Regions from separate parts of the Homo sapiens genome. Here all the other regions are reported to be linked to region 1. Evidence: microRNA targets listed by miRTarBase, many of them from high-throughput screens and not tested one by one. Region 1 holds a microRNA gene; each other region holds the end of a gene's coding sequence.
Evidence for each region. Region 1 holds the annotated microRNA hsa-miR-653-5p (GUGUUGAAACAAUCUCUACUG, at 4,738-4,758, shown strand). A microRNA usually pairs through its seed, bases 2 to 8, with sites in the 3' UTR of a target mRNA and lowers its output. Matches are read on the target gene's strand: a 7mer-m8 pairs with bases 2 to 8, a 7mer-A1 pairs with bases 2 to 7 and ends in A, and an 8mer does both.

Region 2: miRTarBase lists RBM25 as a target of hsa-miR-653-5p. Seed matches in the 3' UTR shown: 7mer-A1 at 5,476-5,482.
Region 3: miRTarBase lists PAWR as a target of hsa-miR-653-5p. Seed matches in the 3' UTR shown: 7mer-m8 at 5,215-5,221 and 7mer-m8 at 6,702-6,708.

The regions. Positions count from the first base shown.
Region 1 is chr7:93,480,480-93,487,580 of GRCh38, reverse strand. MIR653 (microRNA 653) reads left to right here and starts at 4,726; the gene lies at 4,726-4,821. It overlaps CALCR (calcitonin receptor), which reads left to right. Exons shown (of 14, transcript NM_001742.4): 3 at 574-650. The coding sequence starts at 600. It overlaps MIR489 (microRNA 489), which reads left to right and starts at 3,562; the gene lies at 3,562-3,645.
Region 2 is chr14:73,118,008-73,125,108 of GRCh38, forward strand. RBM25 (RNA binding motif protein 25) reads left to right here. Exons shown (of 19, transcript NM_021239.3): 19 at 1,706-5,892. The coding sequence ends at 1,798. Among named protein-coding and RNA genes, the nearest start is that of PSEN1, 15 kb to the right of the region's middle.
Region 3 is chr12:79,587,396-79,594,496 of GRCh38, reverse strand. It overlaps PAWR (pro-apoptotic WT1 regulator), which reads left to right. Exons shown (of 7, transcript NM_002583.4): 6 at 64-168; 7 at 1,804-7,101. The coding sequence ends at 1,890. Among named protein-coding and RNA genes, the nearest start is that of PPP1R12A-AS2, 99 kb to the left of the region's middle.

The DNA.
Region 1 (7,101 bases):
GGTGAGCTGTTAAATGACATGCTCAATCATTGCTATGGAAGAAATTTGTTCTTACTAGCAACTTGAAGCTTAAAGAAACATTTATAGGAAAGAAAATTACTCAAAGCTTTAAATAAGGCTACTTTTAGAGTTGGCCTTAGACTACCTAGAGGGCATGATGATTAATCTTTCACAAATTACAGATTTTATTTGTTCATGTCCAGTGAGGTGACTTCTTGGTGGACATCTTCATTGCAATTTTCAGCAGCTCTATCAATGACACATGTTAACTGAAGCTGACATGGGTTGCTCTTGCTCTCTTGGAATGTCTTTATTTCTGTCCTAATATGCAAAGGTAGTGCCAGAATTTCTTAATAGGAGGGCCTCAGGTATAACAATCTAGTTGACAGGAAAAGCAATGGAATCTTCACTGCATTTGCATCACAAGCATACTGTTTTTTCTTACGTGTGTTTTTTAGGGTGTCTTGGGATGTTGATCCTCTTTAAGTCAAATAGAAAAAATGAAAATGAAATGCCATAGCCAATATTAGAGATATATTAATTTTAGTCTTTGTTGCTTTTATATTTTTCTAGGACAAAGAGATCTTCAAAAATCAAAAATGAGGTTCACATTTACAAGCCGGTGCTTGGCACTGTTTCTTCTTCTAAATGTAAGTAAAACAAAAGTATTCAAAGCCATGCTAATGAAGAATGCTGAATAAGGAGGAATGTTTTGAGTGTGATTTAATTAGTATTTGCAAGGGTAGGCATTGGTCTCCAGAAGCCGAAACTAAGTTCCTCAAAGCCATTATTTTGCTTAATATTTTGTTAACAAATCTCTCCTCTGAACTGTCTCTAATTTAAATTAGTGTTTGTGGTCTACCCAGAAATTTGAGTTTTGTTTACAAAACTTTAGCATTAATTTTAGACATCTCCATATTATCTTAGAAATTAACATAGTTGGTAAATAATATTCTCAGGTAAAATGTTTTCATGTTGAAAAAACTATGTTTTGAATCTTAGTTCAAAACTATGATTTGAATGATAGTTTCTGGGCTGTTCAATCCTTTTAAAACATCTGGGCTGTTCAATTCTTTTAAAACTTCTGAACTCTTTCAGTCTGGCTATTGATTTCAAATGTATTTTTCATCAAAAACTGACTATGGAAACTTCAAGTCTTTATATACCACTATTATTCTATAACTCTTTCTCCAATCTTTTAAATTATGTTCAGTTTGTGTAATTCTATATTGTTTTATTCCTAAAAGATTTAGCAAGTAATCGGAAATATAATCATCTTAGAGAACACTATCAATGCCTATTATTTGTGTCAACATTGTTAACCTACCATCACATCAGCTTCAATAGCACATGAATGGGAGATGAGTAAATTTTACGTAAATCAATGTGGAGCTGCCTTGCTTCTTATCCTTTCTGTCACATCAGAGTAACATTTGCTAATAAATTACAGTTGGCAGCAAAGATCACTCAATATCTCATACTGTCATACTGACCCACACAAAGCTTGCATAGGGTTCGAGGATTTCCATTGTTTATTAATGTGTAGTTATAGGCCTACAAGTCTGTCTAAACTGTTTGTCTTTATATTATTCAAGAAAAAAATATTGCTAGTATTTCATAAATGTTAATTTAATTTGTAAGGCAATTTTTATTTTGTAATATTGTACATCAAATAAATGGTGTATGGGAATGACTATTAATGCAACCCTTTTGCACCTATTTGGATAATGAGTATAACTTATTTTATTGTCAGTTTGTCTTATCATTTTATCCTATTAAATATTTCTTTAGATAAATTACAGTAAAATTTTCTAAAAGTAATTAGTATTTGGAAATGCAGGTTTCTTTATGTCACTGGAAATATAATAAAAACACTAAACAAGACTACTATGGAAACTAATAGAATATTTTAATTTGCCAGTAAATACCCAGGCCTTATGTGGTCTTCTATGGATGTAAAAATATTGCTATATATTATTGATATTGTTATTTTTCATAGCTCAAATGAAATCCTAAGTGATCTGGTATATGTGAATATTTTTGAATAATCATGCTTCATAAATAATTATATTGAACATGACAGAAGAAAAACTAAAGAAAGAACTAAATACTAACAAAATTGTTTGAAGATTATCTAATTACCTTTTTTATTACAAAGGCTTTAGAAAATTTGTAGTGTGTTCAAAAAGCAACGTAGGTCATTTTTATTCAAAACTTTTACTAATGTAGTCTATAATTTAAATATTGAAAAAAATGCACATCTTTGCATGAGCCATGGACAGAAACATTTTATGGCTTGTGGGCACCTCTTGACCAGCAAGCATAACTGAACAGGGCACTTAAATGGGTTTGTGCTCTCTTTGCTGTGACAGAGAGAAATTTGCTTCTCTCTCTGTATTTGGATTATATATTTGATTTGGAGGATTTGTCCATAAAACAAAATTTGATATGTCCATTTTCTTCAAAACGTTTATTATGTTCACACTGACACTTCTCAGAGAAAAAAAATTTTAATGACAATGTTCCTAATTAATCCGAAATATTACTTTTTAGACAATAGATTGTTGTGAAAATACACTAACTATTGAACTCTATCAACTCGATTTCCATATAGGTTTTAAAGTCTCAGTTTGGGTCACCACCTTCAATTAGCCTCTTTCCATTAACCATAACCACCCACTCAATTCCTCTCCCTCCTGCGAGGTATACAGTAAGCTTAGAGCAGCAGTTGGTATACAGTGAGCTCTCAGAAAAAGATGCCAGTGACGATGCTGATGACAACAAAGCCAATGGTAATAACAAAGACATAAAAATTAGGTTCTTCAGAGCAGGTGTTATTGTTACTTGTTTACTTATCTATGTTCACCTATTTGCTTTGAATTTATGATATATGCAGTTTCGTTGTTTATATAATGTAAGTAGAATTACACAGTACACCAGCCAGGCATCTGATCTTACCTGGGAAAACCAGGGCTAACACTTTTTACAACAGTGTGCTTTGTCCTTTCTTATTTTGAAATGTGTAAGTAACTGAAAAGCAAAAATAATTATATACATTATCAACATTAAGGATGGTGACATGAAAATCTCATTGGTTGCATCAGTTTGTGGATTCTAGGTTTACATACTTTTTAGAGTAGTTTTGCATGTGGCAATCAATAGGAAGCTCTCCCTTCAGCACAGCAGCTTGGGTCCATACACTCAGTGGGCTTGAACTATTGCAGAGATGGACCATTTCTCAAAGTTCCATGAAGAACAGCTCTGTAACTGTCTCTGTACTTCTAGAAACTGCCTGTAACCCAAAAGCAAACTGACTGTCCTACATCACAGTAGGAATTGCATAAGCATATGACCATTTCAAATCAGATTCCTTTCCTGTGGATTCCATGATTAGTGTGGATAAAATCAAGAATGTAAGCTCTATGAGAGCAGGTGGCTTGCCAGTTTGGTTCACTGCTGAATTTCCAGAACCTAGAAGAGTGCCTGACATGTGAGAGGCACTCAAAGTATTTGTCGACTGAAAAAAACTGATGATGTTTGGGCTGCTGACTACTGCTGTTGGTGGCAGCTTGGTGGTCGTATGTGTGACGCCATTTACTTGAACCTTTAGGAGTGACATCACATATACGGCAGCTAAACTGCTACATGGGACAACAATTAAGAGTTTTGTTTGTTTGTATGTTGAAAAATCATGTAAGATGGTTTATATGCAAAGCTTTGAAAACTGATGTTTATTCAGAAAAACAATATGCCCTTAATATCTCATTTCTATCTGAATGTGAACATATAATCATATTTTTATTTAACCCCCTGAAATAAGTAGTATAGACATAACACTTATAATAAGTAGGATATTTGAAGTCTCTTACATTGTTTGGTAGTTTCATCCAATCACTACTGGTTTTATTTTGTCTCTGTATTGCTGAAAATGATACCACCTTCCCAGCAATTCTTATTTGTATAAAATTATCAGCAAAAGTTTAACATTTAATAAACTTTATGAAATTTGTATATGTGTTATTTTTAAGCAGTAGTAATTCCATGATTGTAATTATATATATATAATATACATAAAATCATACATATACATATATTTATATGTTTATATCTATCTATCTGTCTGTCTATCTATCTATCTATCTATCTATCTATCTATCTATCTATCTATCTATACAGTCAGCCCTCTGTATCCATGGGTTGTACATCCATAGATTGAACCAATCTTGGATAGAAAATATTCAGGAAAAAATTGTATTGTAAACATACAGACTATTTTTCTTTTTATTATTTCCTAAATAATACAGTATAACAACTATTTACATCATATTTACATTGTACTAGGTATAAATAATCTGGGGATGATTTAAATAATACAGGAGGATGTACATAGGTTATATGCAAATACTACACCATTTTATATGAAGGACCTAAGCATCCTCAGATTTTGGTATCCACATATGCAAATACTACACCATTTTATATGAAGTACCTAAGCATCCTCAGATTTTGGTATCCACAGGAGGTCCTGCAACCAATCCCCTGAGTATACCAAGGGATGACTGTATGTATAAACGTAATGCCCCAATGGGTATGTTATTTTAGGAAGAAGGCCACTGAGACATTCATCTACTGTTGGGAAAATTCCATCTTCAGTGCTCAAATATGAACCAGACCAGGAACTGATGCAGATTATTACTGCTCATCTGACAACAGAGGTTCTAATTTTTCATTCCTTCAGTGTTGAAACAATCTCTACTGAACCAGCTTCAAACAAGTTCACTGGAGTTTGTTTCAATATTGCAAGAATGATAAGATGGAAGCTACTTTCATCAGCATGAATTATAACTACTCGTATACAGATTGTCGTATTTCCACTGTTACTGATGTTAAAACTGCATTAAAGCAAATAAAAATATAATTGAAAATACAAGCATAGGGTTTTCTACTTGTTATCCTCGGACATACTATTTGCCTATGGTTTCCATGAATTTCCAACTAGAGCAAGAAAATCTCTTGGTTGGTTGTCAGCCATATAAAAAGAGAATTCAGAATGTTACTTTTGGGAAGAAAGCCAGATTTAAACAAAATACTTCCCAGTGTTTAGCATATCTAATACAAGTGACAGATAAGATTTATATATGACATCATGTTCCATCTTCTAATTCGATTTGAAGATGGTGAGAAAATGGTCCAGAAATTAATAATACATCAAATGATCATTCTCATATTAACTGAAGATTTTAGAGCCACAAAAGAAGAATCTAAAATAAATGTATAAGTTGAACCAATAATTAATATCTCTATTGTGAAGGCATCATGATCCATTCTTGTTTTGATGGTTGCCTAATATGTAATTGAATTTTTAAAACACACATATTCATACAAAAGTTGAGTAATAAACTAAAAAAAGAAACCTCAACATGGAATCCCTTCAAATTACTCTTTTTTAAAAATTTTGCAAATCGTGTTCCAATTCCATTAGGAATATCTAAGAATTTTATGACTGATGATTCTTTATTGTTCATAATTTCAAGTATCAGAAATATATTTTATAGTGTTGGTCCATCTTGCCAGACTGTAAGCTCTATGAGAGCACAGTCTACACTTATTTTATTCAGCACTGTATCCTCAGCATCTGGCACAATGTTGGGCTCATCAAGTTTGATCAATATTTGCTGACTGATCTGAAGACCAGTGGGGAAAGTGTCATATATCAAAAGAATTGTGTTCAGCTACACTGGTAAAGGATTTGCACAGTTATAATCATTTTTATGGGTTCATTACTTTCTCTTCTGACATAAATTCAAGAGACATTAAAATTAGAAATCAACAAAATGTTTAAAGAGTAGTGTCAACCTTATTCACAATTGGTGTCCATTTGAAGTTATCACAGTAATGTTATAATAATGATAAGTATTCACCCTCTTCTCTTTGCAAGATATTTCCACTAGGATGGCTTGCTACCATCTCCAAATCTAACCCAAAATAGGACTTACTTACCAAGGGGGAGAAGTTCCCCCTAATAAGGTTTTCCTTTCCCAGCATCTTCCCTTTCTTGGGAACTATTTTTTTCCCCAAATATCTAGGCTAATTATCTGGGCTATTTGACTATTACTGTTTCCCATTCCTTGTATTCAAATATGCCTTCATGTTTTTATTATTGAGAAGGTGCTAAGAGTGGTACTTTCTTGTTCCAACATGGACTGATCTAGTCCAGCCAGGCCTTCAACTTCCTGGCTGCCCCCACCCCACCCCGCAACTTTAACCTGTGGACATCTGATGCCTGCTGCATGAATTTTACTAAAAATTCTCCTTTCACAACCTTCACTGATCAAAAATCTACAAAACATCTTTATCATATATATTATGTTATATACCATGTTTTAACAATATTAGCTAAAATGTTTTGAACCTTTCATGTCCCTGACACTTGGTGTTTATTGTCTTGTTCATCCTCACAACATGACAGATGATAAATATTATTCTTACCGCTCTTCTTATTTTACGTTTCCTAGGTTGAGGAAACAGATCTAGTGAGAGGTTGCTAACCTGCTCAAAGTGACAAAACAAGTTTTAACTCTTTTTTTGTTATCTGAAGATTCAGATAATGCAGTCTTGAAAGCAAAGTCCTGACCTTCTTACCCTCAAATATGCTCCCCTTCAGGCAAGATGGTTTTCTCACAGTGGCTCATGCATGTCATTTCCAACCTCCAGACTTTTGTGGGAAAGGTCCCTCCATCCCAAAAGGCTTCTCGACCCCCCCTTGTGCCTATGCAGAAACTTCCCACACTCAAGATACAATTCAAATTCTACCTTGTATCTGTAGCCATCCTGAATATTTTTGCTCCCTACTCTCTCCAAACTCTGAATTTTGATTGGATTCTGTGCTGGACAGCTTAGCAGTTAGTGATGTGCTGTCGTGTAGGACATATACAATGACACACATGGAAAACAGTGAGGATTCACCATGAAGAGCCAGGAATATACATGTCAACTTAATAGGGATGAGTTTTGTTTAGAAACTAGCACATATAGAAGAGTACATAACACCACTTCTGCCATCAATACAATTGGAGAAACTTCAATCTTAGAATTGAAATT
Region 2 (7,101 bases), not on the chromosome of region 1:
AAGACAATTTCCTCATCCACCACTGGAAGAAGACTTGTTACTCAGTAGTCATGTGTGCCCCGTGATGATTGTATTTGCTTATTGTGTTTACTGTATTCTGGACACTGTACTAAATACTTATATTCTCATTTAATGTTCACTTTAGTGTCACATACACAATAAATGCTAGTTAAGATGGTACGGTTGGGCTGTGCACAGCAGCTCAAACCTGTAATCCCAGCACTTTGGAAGGCCAAGGTGCGCAGATTGCTTGAGCCCAGGAGTTTGAGACCAGCCTGGGCAACATAGTGAGACCCTGTCTCTACTAAAAAGCACAAAAATGTAGCCAGGAGTAGTGGTGCACACCTGTAGTCCTAGCTACTGGTGAGGCTGATGTGGGAGTATCACTTGAGCCTGGGAGGTCAAGGCTGTAGTGCACCATGATCATGCCACTGTACTCCAGGCTGGGTGACAAGAGAGATCCTGTCTCCAGAAAAAAAAAAAAAAAGTTTGTGAGGTTGTGTTTTTGGAGATAAATGAAATTCTGTATTGTTATTATGTAATTGTATATTATTTAGTTCTTCTTAAATTACTGTGTTCTTTATGAAAAGCGTATGGTTTCCTTGGGAAGTAGTTTTGTCAGACATGTATAATTGCAGTATCTGTAAAGGTAAAATAAAAGAATAAAAGGTGGATCACAAAAATATGGTACTCTTTGTGTTTAGTAAGCCATGGAATTTTGAATGATTTTTTTTTGTTGTCGTTGTTAATTTACATTTACTATTTATTTATTTATTTAGAGACGGAGTTTTGCTCTTGTTGACCAGGCTGGAGTGCAGTGGCATGATCTTGGCTCACTGCAACCTCCGCCTCCCAGGTTCAAGCGATTCTCCTACCTCAGCCTCCCGAGTAGCTGGGATTACAGGTGCCGGCCACCATGCCCAGCTAATTTTTGTATTTTTAGTAGAGATGGGGTTTCGTCATGTTGGCCAGGCTGGTCTTGAACTCTTGACCTCTGGTGATCCACCTGCCTCAGCCTCCCAAAGTGCTGGGATTATAGGTGTGAGCCACTGTGCCCGGTCCATTTACTATTTATTAATAATACATTTCTCACACTGGACAAATTTTCTTTAAGTCATTTTACTGAAAGCAAAACTACTTCCTAAGGAAAACAAATACGTATTATAAAGAACGTAGTAATTTAAGAAGAACTAAATATACAACTATGTAATAACAATACAGAATCTCATGTATCCCCTCAAAACAACCTTAAAACTTTTTTGTTTTTTTTGTTTTTCTTTTTTGAGATGGAGTCTTGCTCTGTTGCTCAGGCTGGAGTGCAGTGGCGCGATCTTGGCAAGCTCCGCCTCCTGGGTTCACGTCATTCTCCTGCCTCAGCCTCCCCAGCAGCTGGGAATACAGGCGCACGCTGCCATGCCCAGCTAGTTTTTTGTATTTTTAGTAGAGATGGGGTTTCACCATGTTAGTCAGGATGGTCTTGATCTCCTGACCTTGTGATCCGCTCGCTTCGGCCTCCCAAAATGCTGGGATTACAGGCGTGAGCCACCACACCCGGCCACTAAAACAACCTTAAAATCTTAACTAGCATTTAAGTAATAAGTGCTTATTGTCAGTGGATGAAAAACTTTTTTATACTGGCCACTGTTTTTGGCAGATGTTGATGATTGCTTCTCTTACATGTGTTGCTGTTTTGTTTCCTCTTTAGGTACTTGATGAAGAAGCAGAAGTTTTTATAGTCAAAATGTGGAGATTATTGATATATGAAACAGAAGCCAAGAAAATTGGTCTTGTGAAGTAAAACTTTTTATATTTAGAGTTCCATTTCAGATTTCTTCTTTGCCACCCTTTTAAGGACTTTGAATTTTTCTTTGTCTTTGAAGACATTGTGAGATCTGTAATTTTTTTTTTTTGTAGAAAATGTGAATTTTTTGGTCCTCTAATTTGTTGTTGCCCTGTGTACTCCCTTGGTTGTAAAGTCATCTGAATCCTTGGTTCTCTTTATACTCACCAGGTACAAATTACTGGTATGTTTTATAAGCCGCAGCTACTGTACACAGCCTATCTGATATAATCTTGTTCTGCTGATTTGTTTCTTGTAAATATTAAAACGACTCCCCAATTATTTTGCAGAATTGCACTTAATATTGAAATGTACTGTATAGGAACCAACATGAACAATTTTAATTGAAAACACCAGTCATAAACTATTACCACCCCCACTCTCTTTTGATCAGAAATGGCAAGCCCTTGTGAAGGCATGGAGTTTAAAATTGGAATGCAAAAATTAGCAGACAATCCATTCCTACTGTATTTCTGTATGAATGTGTTTGTGAATGTATGTGTAAAAGTCTTTCTTTTCCCTAATTTGCTTTGGTGGGGTCCTTAAAACATTTCCCAACTAAAGAATAGAATTGTAAAGGAAAAGTGGTACTGTTCCAACCTGAAATGTCTGTTATAATTAGGTTATTAGTTTCCCAGAGCATGGTGTTCTCGTGTCGTGAGCAATGTGGTTTGCTAACTGGATGGGGTTTTCTTATTAATAAGATGGCTGCTTCAGCTTCTCTTTTAAAGGAATGTGGATCATAGTGATTTTTCCTTTTAATTTTATTGCTCAGAAATGAGGCATATCCTAAAAATCCTGGAGAGCTGTATTTAATGCATTTTTGCACTAATTGGTCCTTAGTTTAATTCTATTGTATCTGTTTATTTAACAAAAAATTCATCATACCAAAAAGTGTAAGTGAAAACCCCCTTTAAAACAAAACAAAAAAATGAAATAAAATTAGGCAAATTGACAGACAGTGAGAGTTTTACAAACATGATAGGTATTCTGCTCGGCAATTTGTAAGTTTACATGTTATTTAAGGATAAAGGTAAATCATTCAAGGCAGTTACCAACCACTAACTATTTGTTTTCATTTTTGTCTTGTAGAAGGTTTATATCTTGTTTTACCTTGGCTCATTAGTGTTTAAAAATGTACTGATGATGTGCTTAGAGAAATTCCTGGGGCTTTCTTCGTTGTAGATCAGAATTTCACCAGGGAGTAAAATTACCTGAAAACGTAAGAAGTTTTAAACAGCTTTTCACACAAATTAGATGCAACTGTTCCCATGTCTGAGTACTTATTTAAAAGAAAGGTAAAGATTGGCCTGTTAGAAAAAGCATAATGTGAGCTTTGGATTACTGGATTTTTTTTTTTTTTAAACACACCTGGAGAGGACATTTGAAAACACTGTTCTTACCCTCGAACCCTGATGTGGTTCCATTATGTAAATATTTCAAATATTAAAAATGTATATATTTGATCCTGGGGACTCATATTCTTTCAGAATCATGTAAATAAATGGCATCATGTTGTAATTGTGTGGTGCATACTAGAAAAGTTAAAAATATGGGCTGAACTTTTTATGGACTTGATTTTTATGACTATTGGTATCTAAAGGTCAAGGAAGCCATTTACATTATTTTGGATGAATCTACTATACATCTATGGAAATGTCTCTTTTATTTTAAATTCTGGTTTCTCAACGGAAAATTTCAGAAAAGATGCCCCTTGCCATTTTCGTTAATTTTTCAGTCTTTTCTTAGACACACCCCCAGCCTAAGACCTTGTTCGAGGAGTTTATTGTGTCTGTCTTTTCTTAACATACTGCACTGTTCTTAAGCATCATATTGTGTTGTTTTTATTTAGCCACTATTAACATGAAGGTTTATTCAGGTAGATTTGATTTCCTTTGCTTCGTTTCTTCTCCTGCTCTGTCAACTGTACTTATCTTAAAGGGCCACTCTAAAAACAAGGGAGATGTCGTAATCTGAAACCTTTGGGGAGATGTACTCTGTACTGCATAACATCTCCAGTGAGGTTTGTGACAGGACCTCAACTAAATATATGAATTTGTGCAAGTTCATATATTAAAGTTTCTGCAGCAGAGTGAAAATTGTTACAGTAAATGTGGTAGAAACTGTTAATCGCTTAATGCCAGTTTAAATCATGTTTTGTAACCAAGCTTCAGTAAAAGGCTTTAGATTGTCAGAGTTGGTTGATTTTTAGAATTGTATATATAAAGAATTAGACATTAAACAGGCATATTCTAGTGTCTGAAAATACACATAAGAAATTTCTATTAAGTTGCTTGAACTTTGTGGGTTAATTTTACCATAATCTCATAAATTAATTTTAGTTTGAAAACCTTATACAGTATGAATTCATTTTGCCATTTCAAGTTGTTATATAAAGAGCATGAAAGTCTTTTTTTGTTGTTTTTTTGGGGTTTTTTTTTTTTTGAGAGGAAGTTGTGCTTTTGTCGCCCAGGATGGAGTGCAATGGCGCGAGCTCAGCTCACTTCAACTTCCGCCTCCCGGGTTCTGGAGATATTCTGCTTCAGTTTTCTGAGTAGCTGGGATTACAGGTGCCCACCACGACACCTGGCTAATTTTTTGTATTTTTAGTAGAGACAGGATTTCACCTTGTTGGCCAGGCTGGTCTCAAACTCCTGACCTCAGGTGATCCACCCGCCTCAGCCTCCCAAAGTGCTGGTATTACAGGCGTGAGCCACCTTGCCTGGCCAAAGCGTGAACATCTTAAGAACCAGTCTTGATCTGGCAAAAAAGTAGTAGAATACTACTTTTCTTTATTTGTCCCTAAAAATAAAGTATGTACATCTGTTCACAAGGAAGAAAGGTAAGTTTGAAGTTGTTTTTCTTAAACTTTAATGTGACCCCAAATCATCTGAGGAGTGCTTGTAGAAATAGAGACACTGAAGTAGCAGCGCTGGGGTGGCGCCGCAGGCTTTGCATTTCTGGACAGCTCCCAGCTAATGTCATTGCCAACTGATCCAAGACTACATTTTGATTAGCACTTTAAGGTGTCTATTCAGTATTATTTTATCCTAACAGACTACATAAATGCAGCTGAATTTTCCTTTAAGTAGATTTTAAAGAGAAAAACATTTTTTGAGGCAAATACACGTAACTCATGAACGTAATGTAATCTTGCAAAATTATGTCTGAGAAAGCCCTAATATTCTAGGCTTTTTTTCCATCCAGCCCTGAAAATTTTTTCTGTAGATAACTTTATGTTGTAACTTATTCTGAATCTTATTATGGCATTTCCCTGTAAACTATGTAAGTGTAAGCTAATGATTATTTTGTGAAGCGTGCTGTTTCAGGTATTAATCTGCCATGAATACTAGATATAGTAGAAAAACTGAGAAAACATTTAGCTTGAGAGCCAATTTGAACTAGACACTATCTTTTTTTCTCCTTTTTAATGGAATAAATTTAATGCAAATAAGTGTAAGCAGGTATACAATGTTTAGATGAGGCTTATTTTCCCAACTCTTTTTAACAGGTTTTATGATATCCCCAATTTATACCCAAAAGACTGCTGAGAGGTTTTATGTCAAATTGATTACAAACTTCTCTGGGTTGTATTTCAGTCTTCTGTTAAGTATGAAATTGAGAAATAGTTTTGCTCAACAAAAGATGATGAGGGATTGATTTGTGAATGTCACTGGAGATAAAAGGGTATGAGAAGGAATCCCAAGCAGGCAAAGAAACAGTCTAGCTGTCAAGAAGAAAACAGGGAGATACATACCAAACCCAGGAGCTACTAATATAACAATCATACTATAGAGCGAAGTGAACTTACACTTTTTGATAAACTGATAGATTTTTTGTAATGTGATTATGGTAAAATACTGAAATATTTATGTTAATTTATTTGCATTTGAATGCTTACATTTTTAATTGACAGAATCTTTGCATTTCATTACTTGAGTCATGAAGGCGAAATTAAAGAATGGCAGTCTAAAATACCCAGGTAAAGAAGATAATTTCTAGAAACAAAAATAAAAATTCTTTTCAAGCCATGTTGTTTGAATTAAATGACACTCCTGAGTCTGTCTACTTTTTTTTTTTTTTTTGAGACAGCATCTTGAACCCAGGAGGTGGAGGTTGCAGAGAGCCGAGATTGCGCCACTGCACTCCAGCGTGAGCAACAAGAGCAAAACTCCATCTCAAAAAAATACATGTATTTCTGTTAGCTGATCATCTAATGGTGGCAAAAAAAATTACACGAGTTCAGGAACATCATTAGACATAAATACAAAATACTATGTGAATTATCAAATGTGATAAGCTGAGAGGAAATGGGAAATAGGAAGATTCTCAGTAGAAGTAGTAATATGTGGAAGGGGCTTTAGAGGTCACCTAGTCTGTTTTGCCCATTGTAATTATGTCAGTAGTCCCTGCAGGTGGTTTATCTAGAGGAGTATATATGGGGTTCTAATTCATGGTCTAGCATTGCACTATTAAATAACCACTAATGACAAGTAGTTTTACATGCATTCACGTGAAATCTTTCTGTTTGTTTGTTTGAGATAGGGTCTGCCTCTGTCACCCACGCTGGAGTGCAGTGGCAAGATCTTGGCTCACTGCAACTTCTGCCTCCTGGGCTCAAGTGATCCTCCCACCTCAGCCTCCCAAGTACTTGGGACCACAGGTGCACACCAACACACCCAGCTAATTTTTGTAGAGGAAGGGTTTCACCATGTTTCCCTGGTGGGCTTTGAACACCTGAGCTCAAACGATGCCTTGACCTCTCAAAGTGCTGGGATTACAAGTGTCAGCCACTGCACCTGGCCGACATTTTTTATTTGTTTAGAGACAAGGATTCCCTGTAAAGCTGCAGGGGCACAATCGTGGCTCTCACTGCAGCCTCGAATTCCTGGGCTCAGTGATCCTCTTGTCCCAGCCACCTGAGTAGCTAGGACTACAGGTGCACCCCACCATGCCTCCTATTTTTTGTGTTTGTGTGGAGATGAAGTGTGTTGTCTAGGCTGGTCTCAAGTGATCCTTCAGCCTCAGCCTCCTAAACTGCTGAGATTACAGGCATAAGCTTTTTTGATAAAGGAAAAACTAGTGAGCATTTCACATTGTAGAATCCAAAAACATGAAAGTTAATCTTTTCCTGTCAATTTACAGTTTTGTAAATGTACCCAGGTGAAGAGACTGGTCTGTTACTGTAGATAGAAAAGTACCAAAACAAAGTTTTACTTTGTTCAGTATACTGTCGAGGCAACTTTCTAAATGAGAGGGTC
Region 3 (7,101 bases), not on the chromosome of region 1:
ACTTAGGAAGATTATAAATAAACAATTACTTCCTAATTACTGGTTTTTAATTGTATCTACCAGGAAGTAGTAAGAGAAAGACAAGAAAACCTAAGACTTGTGAGACTGATGCAAGATAAAGAGGAAATGATTGGAAAACTCAAAGAAGAAATTGATTTATTAAATAGAGTAAGTATTTCACCATATTTCAGGTTTGGAGGGGTTTTTTTTGGCAATTGGATGAAAATATATAAATATGAAGAAATTATTAATTGCATTATTCACTTTGTTCTTTTGTTAGTGAAATAATAATTAGTAAGAGGTATCATTTTCTTCCAAAAACTGATTTCCTTTGGGCAGTTATCAGTTTAGCTCACTTAATTTTATTCTTTTGGAGATAGACTGATTTATGGATTTGTTCTCTGTTTTGTTAAAATCTGAGGGTGACAGGCGCTTTGTCACTACCATATGTAAGGGCACTGGCACAGAGTTGCCTCAAGAAATATCTAAAATTGGCCAGGCGCTGTGGCTCACACCTGTAATCTCAGCACTTTGGGAGGCCGAGGAGGGCGGATCACGTGAAGTCAGGAGTTCGAGACCAGCCTGGCCAACATGGTAAAACCCCGACTCTACTAAAAATATGAAAAATTAGCTGGGCATGGTGGTGGGCACCTGTAATCTCAGCTACTCAGAAGGTTGAGGCAGGAGAATTGCTTGATCCCAGGAGGCGGAGGTTGCAGTGAGCCAAGATTGCGCTGCTGCACTCCAGCCTGGGCAGCAAGAGTAAGACTCTGTCTCAAAAAAAAAAAAAAAAAACCCTAAAATTGGTACTCTTTATTATTATTATTATTATTTTTTGAGAAGGAGTCTCTCTCTGTTGCCCAGGCTGGAGTTCAGTGGCGCGATCTCAGCTCACTGCAACCTCCACCCCCCGGGTTCAAGTGATTCAAATTGATTACATCAAGATTTATTATTTTAAACTGCAAGAATAAATCTATAAATGTCTGCTTTTTTAACAGTAAAGAGTCTGTCTTGAAATAATGTTTCTTGTAACTAAAACTTATGGTGAATTTGTTTTAACCAGATGGTTGTGTGTTTGGGACAAGGATTAATACAGGGAAAAAAGAGCTGGATCATATGCTTTTAAAGCTGGAGAGCGAATACTTAATTTAGTGGCTTTGAATTAATTTTAGCTCTAAAACCTTTCCTTCAAAATGTCGTAGAAAAGTCCAACATACAAATTGATCTGGAGCTGAAAACAAAATTGATCCAGATCAAGATACTCCAGATCCCCTTTTCCGTAGGCCTCAGTTTTGTCACCTCTCCAGAGTGTTATCCCCATTGTACACCTTTAAAGATCAGACAGTGGTAGGAGTGCATCTAGAACTTGTACCTGCACCTTTTGATGACTAATTTGACACAAGGTTGCAACCTAGGGCTCAATACCATATATGGCTTGCATGGGTAGTTTTTTTTTTTGCCTCAGTTTTAGGGAGGGGAAGTGGAGTTTGTTTAGCTAAAAAACTAACTTATTTATGATGATTGAAAATTGGAAGATTCACAATTTTAAAATTCTGACTTTCGGCTTCCTTTGAAAAACTGAAAGATCTGTAAGAGTTGGCCTATACACTTGTTGTAAGAACGAAGAGTCAAGTAATGGATGCTCTTTTTTGGTGGGGCATATTACATCTAAAGTTGTTTTCAGAGCTTGCCCTCATTTCAAAATTAATTGGTTGTATGAATTATTTTTAATGTGTATTAAGTGTTTTCATCTCTCCTCAAATATTTTTAAGTATTTTTAAAGTGTCTTTTTTTTTTCTTAAGGACCTAGATGACATAGAAGATGAAAATGAACAGCTAAAGCAGGAAAATAAAACTCTTTTGAAAGTTGTGGGTCAGCTGACCAGGTAGAGGATTCAAGACTCAATGTGGAAAAAATATTTTAAACTACTGATTGAATGTTAATGGTCAATGCTAGCACAATATTCCTATGCTGCAATACATTAAAATAACTAAGCAAGTATATTTATTTCTAGCAAACAGATGTTTGTTTTCAAAATACTTCTTTTTCATTATTGGTTTTAAAAAAGCATTATCCTTTTATCTCACAAATAAGTAATATCTTTCAGTTATTAAATGATAGATAATGCCTTTTTGGTTTTGTGTGGTATTCAACTAATACATGGTTTAAAGTCACAGCCGTTTGAATATATTTTATCTTGGTAGTACATTTTCTCCCTTAGGAATATACATAGTCTTTGTTTACATGAGTTCAAATACTTTTGGGATGTTACCTTCACATGTCCTATTACTGATGTGTGCAACCTTTTATGTGTTGATGACTCACTCATAAAGGTTTTTGTCTACTGTCATTTGTTCTTTCCACTTATTCTAAGCATTTAGAGTAATAGAGTCATACTTTTTTATAACAGCAACCTTTTAAAAGGAAAGCTCTTATAAAGTCACTGTCATGTTTTAGTTGACTAAATATAAATTTAAGAGAATACTTGAATTGTGCTATAGTAAATAAAAATTTACTATTTTGTGTTTGAATATTGAAAAATTGAATCACTTTAACTCCTGAAAAACATACAATTGTAATTTCAATGTAAAATTTCTTATGTAGGTACTACCTTTTTTTATCGTTCCAAGGTTTGCTAGTGAACACAGGATATTTTAAAAGTTTTTTATTCTTCGGGCCTGGAAAGTGTACAAAGTCAGTGTAGGAGAAAAAAATCCATATTTTTATATTAGCATGCACACTAAAAACCAAAATATTATTCATACTTAAAACATTCATACAAAACAATATGTAAGCAGAAATAGTACTAAAATACTTTGCCTAATTTCTAAGTTGAAGAATAACACTGGGACACAGTTTTTTCATATGAGAGAATATTCCGCTATTTCAAATTTAAGGGATTTTCTTCCTAACATTGAAATTTTAAAAACAGAGTTACTTCTAAATAATTATACAGATTTTTTCTTCTATTAAATATTATTATTTAGAATTGTTTTTGTATTACATATTCATGTTAAGAACCCCGTCTTCCCTTAAAATACATTAAAATTATGACATTTTTGCTTTGTGATTGAATTTCAAATAGCAGTATGGTATCCTTTTATCTAGTTAATATATGAAAGTGGCTTGAATATAGTCAAATCCATTTTAGGTACTCTACTGACTTTTTCCTTCACTTGCCAAGCCCTTTTATTGTTCACTGTTAGAAAAATAGAGAAGGTGAGACAGCTGGGGGAAAATGTGGAGTAAATGATAATCAAATGTTGAATTCTAAAAGTCTCTACATTTACCTAGGTTGGCTTTCTCCCCCAGTTCAGAAGTTTCCAGCTTGGCCAATCATCAGAATCACTTGAGGAACTTAGAAAGAACTCCCTGGCTGTAGCTCCTATGTAGGTTTAGGTTGAGACTCTGGATTCCACAATTTTTAAAGGTTACCATCTGAGGTTTCTGATCATAGTCTACTTTTGAAGCAGCTGCTGCTGTTTCTTTATTCCATTGAACACCCTGGAATTGACATAATTTTATCTATCAGCATTTCTCCCCTTTTAGTTTATTTAATAATTAACCCGGTCTCCAGGGCAGTTTTCATATGACCATGTGTATATTCACTGCTCACGAAAAAGTTTAATGTTAGATTACCAAATTTAATATAGTTACAGAATTACTGCATAAGGGCTTCCCTTCTTGGAGACTCTTACCCAGCATGGGAACAGTGATCTGCCCACATGACAGGGTGGTATGCCAGGCATAGTTAACTGCTTTTGGTTGTGAGGTACTCATCTTCCTTTAGTTACCCTTAGTTATGTGGCACACATGTCCTTATTGCCTAGTTCGTCATCCACACTTTGGATCTTGTGAAAATGCTGTTAGTATCCAACCTTAAAATATATTAGTATATGGGTTTTTATTAAAAGAATTACTTTGAATTTTCTATTTAATTCATATGTAAATAAAGGAACATTTCATTTCACTTAAAAAAATTATATCAGTTATTAGGCTGGGTGCAGTGGCTCATGCCTGTAATCCCAGCACTTTGGGAGGCCAAGGCGGGTGGATTACCAGAGTTCGGGAGTTTGAGACCAGCTTGACCAACATGGAGAAACCCCGTCTCTACTAAAAATACAAAATTAGCCAGGTGTGGTGGCGCATGCCTGTAATCCTGGCTACTCAGGAGGCTGAGGCAGGAGAATCGCTTGAAAACCCAGGAGACAGAGGTTGCGGTGAGCTGAGATTGCGCCATTGTACTCCAGCCTGGGCAAGAAGAGCGAAACTCTGTCTCCAAAAAAAAAAAAAAAAAAATTATTAATACTTTTAAAGACTGAGCTGTTTAAGAATTTTTTGGGGAACATTTCTAGCAGTGATTTTTTTGGCCTTTAATGATAGCGTAAAGACAGGAGCCTTACAACTTAGGCAAAGCATTTCACATGCAGTCCTTCTTCCATCTCAAAATATGTACTTATTTTACATACAGAATTTTACACTAACCATTGAAAAATAAAGTAGGATCTGCTACAGTTTCACCTGAAAATTTATAAAAAGTGTTGAGATTGGTAGAAGGTAGTTTTTAAGTACATGTGCACTACCCTAAAAGACTTGTCTATTGTCAATAAAGTGTTAGTATTTGTGAAATTATTATTCCTGTTCAGAAATACTATTTCTTAAATCTCCTGGGAATTTGTGGCATAATAAAGCACATTCAAAGTTCTAATGTATTTATGAGCTCATTTTCAAAATAGTAAGTTTGTCATCTTTAAAATGAACATGACTTGCCTCCTTGATTTCTGAAATGAATTAATTGAAGATTGCTATAGTAATCTTTATTTCATCTTTCTAGAGTTGTTGACAATTTTATTATACAACAGTTACCATTAGAGAAGGAGGGAAGGGCTTTTGGGTGTGTATTTATAGGTACTAAGGGATTTACTAAATATAGTAGATTAGCACTGTCACACTTGTTCAAGTAGTTTCAAACATAGAAAATTAAGTATCAGGTATGTGGAGCAATGTAGTTTTTTTTTTTCTTCAGTTTAAAAAATTTTTAATTGTGGTAGAAGCAATGTATTCTTAAGGTGAAAAACCTACCTCGGTTACATGTGGTTTGTGTTTTTTGGATTAATCTGGATTTTATAATTAGAAATAAAAATGTAAGATTTTGAATCCACTTAATTTCTTGAAAATAGTACAAGTCAGTGTAATAGAGAAGCATTCATATATTCAACACTGTAAGACAAAACAGCAGAGACCTTGGATTTGATAATTGATCTGATATCCTGGACAGTATTCATATGTACAGTGATAGGTATCTTTCTTTGGAGTTTTTTTTTTGTGCATATGTGTATAGTTTTATGGGTTCTGAGTTGGTGACCAGTAAGTTGCATGTAGTGCTGGCACTTACTTAATAACTATTCATGATATTGTTAATAACTTGTTATAGGATTGTATTCCCAATTACAGTCTCTAAGATTGTAATTGATATTATCTGAGAGGTAGTGTGACAACTTTCTTTTGTTGTTACATTAAGCCGAAAACATAATACTAATAGACAACTAACAGTTTGCTTATCAGGCACATCAACTAAGGCACCTCCCCCCATGCTAAGTTTCTCCTGGATATATGGAAGTTGATTGTTTCCCAGTTTAAAAACTTGAACTAATATCTCCTAAGAAAATCTGAGTCCATATTGTTTTTATTTTACTTAGCTAGAATCTCATAGCATGTTAAAGTCATATCCTTATCCCCACTAAAAATAACTATGTCTATGTGAGAGGAATATAGTATGTGGGAGCTGTATTAAATACTATTACAGGTGTTACAGAATCTTTAAATAAATGGACATGGACCAACTTTCCATCTAGTAGTGTACGATCTATATAGTGCATGTCAGTAGCACAAAATGCAGTCTTAGCATTAGCCTGTCTAATCTGAATAGTTTACTCAAAAGTACTTCTTTGTGTTAAGTATTCAGCCACTGTTTTTAGATCTAGTTAATAGGTTCTATTTAATTTGCTACAACATTTACTGAATGGTGGAGTGAAAAAACTGATGCATACTGGGAAATATCTACCATTTTTTAAAGATAATGTTAATTAGGAAAAGAACACTTTTAAGGAATTTATAGCAGTGATGAAATGAATTCAGTTATATCAGATACACCAAACTGTTGATGGTATTTAAATGTGACTTCAAGTTAGTATTTCTGTATATATTATTGATTACTGGTTTGTTTTTAGATATGTAAGTCTGTTCTAATCTACAGTTCACATATCGACAGTTACTCTGGTAATAATAGAATGTTAGTGATGATCACTTGGTGGATGTTGATTAAGTGCCTGTGTTTTGTTTCCTCCTCTGGATACCAAATAGGTGTATGCTACTTTTTTGGTGAACTTATTTCTTGGAAGATTTGGCTATGCTATTCAGGGTTTTTATTCTTATGTTTTTCTTCTAAATTTAAGTAGCATCCTGCTGCTACCATATTAAAGCTAAAATTTAACTTTTGCTGAAGAATCAGCTAATTCAGGTAATCCAAATATTTGTGGAAAAACATCTGGATAATTTATTGAACACATTAGTATTGTGTTAGACAGCTTTGATCATTCCCATTTCATAGGTTTTTATTGTGGAATAGTCAACTTAATATAGATTCACTTTCAATTTGCATGTATAAAGTAATACTCAATAAAATTTTTTTCATTTATTTTTCAACAGTGGTTATTTTTTTTCTTCCTGTACTATCAGTAAAATCCTGACTATGAGTTTTACTTTTGAAGCTAAAGGATAATGCTGGTAATCTAATTATGTACCTCTTACAGAAACCATATGCAGCACTTTAAAAATCTTTATTTGGTATATTATTTTAGGTGGACAATGATTTAAGACTCAAAGCCATCATATTAAGGTCTAAATACATTAGTGGTGGGGTTTCTCGAATAAATGAGGAAGTGCACAAAAGTTCAGCCTGACTGAAAATTTTAATTGTGTTTTAAAACTACATGAATAATTTCTTGATTCAAAATCAGAACTCTTATAAACTAAATCTGATGGTGTCCAAAGAATTTCAGGTCCTTCAAAGTTTGTAAAAGATAAGTAGGGGCCTAGGA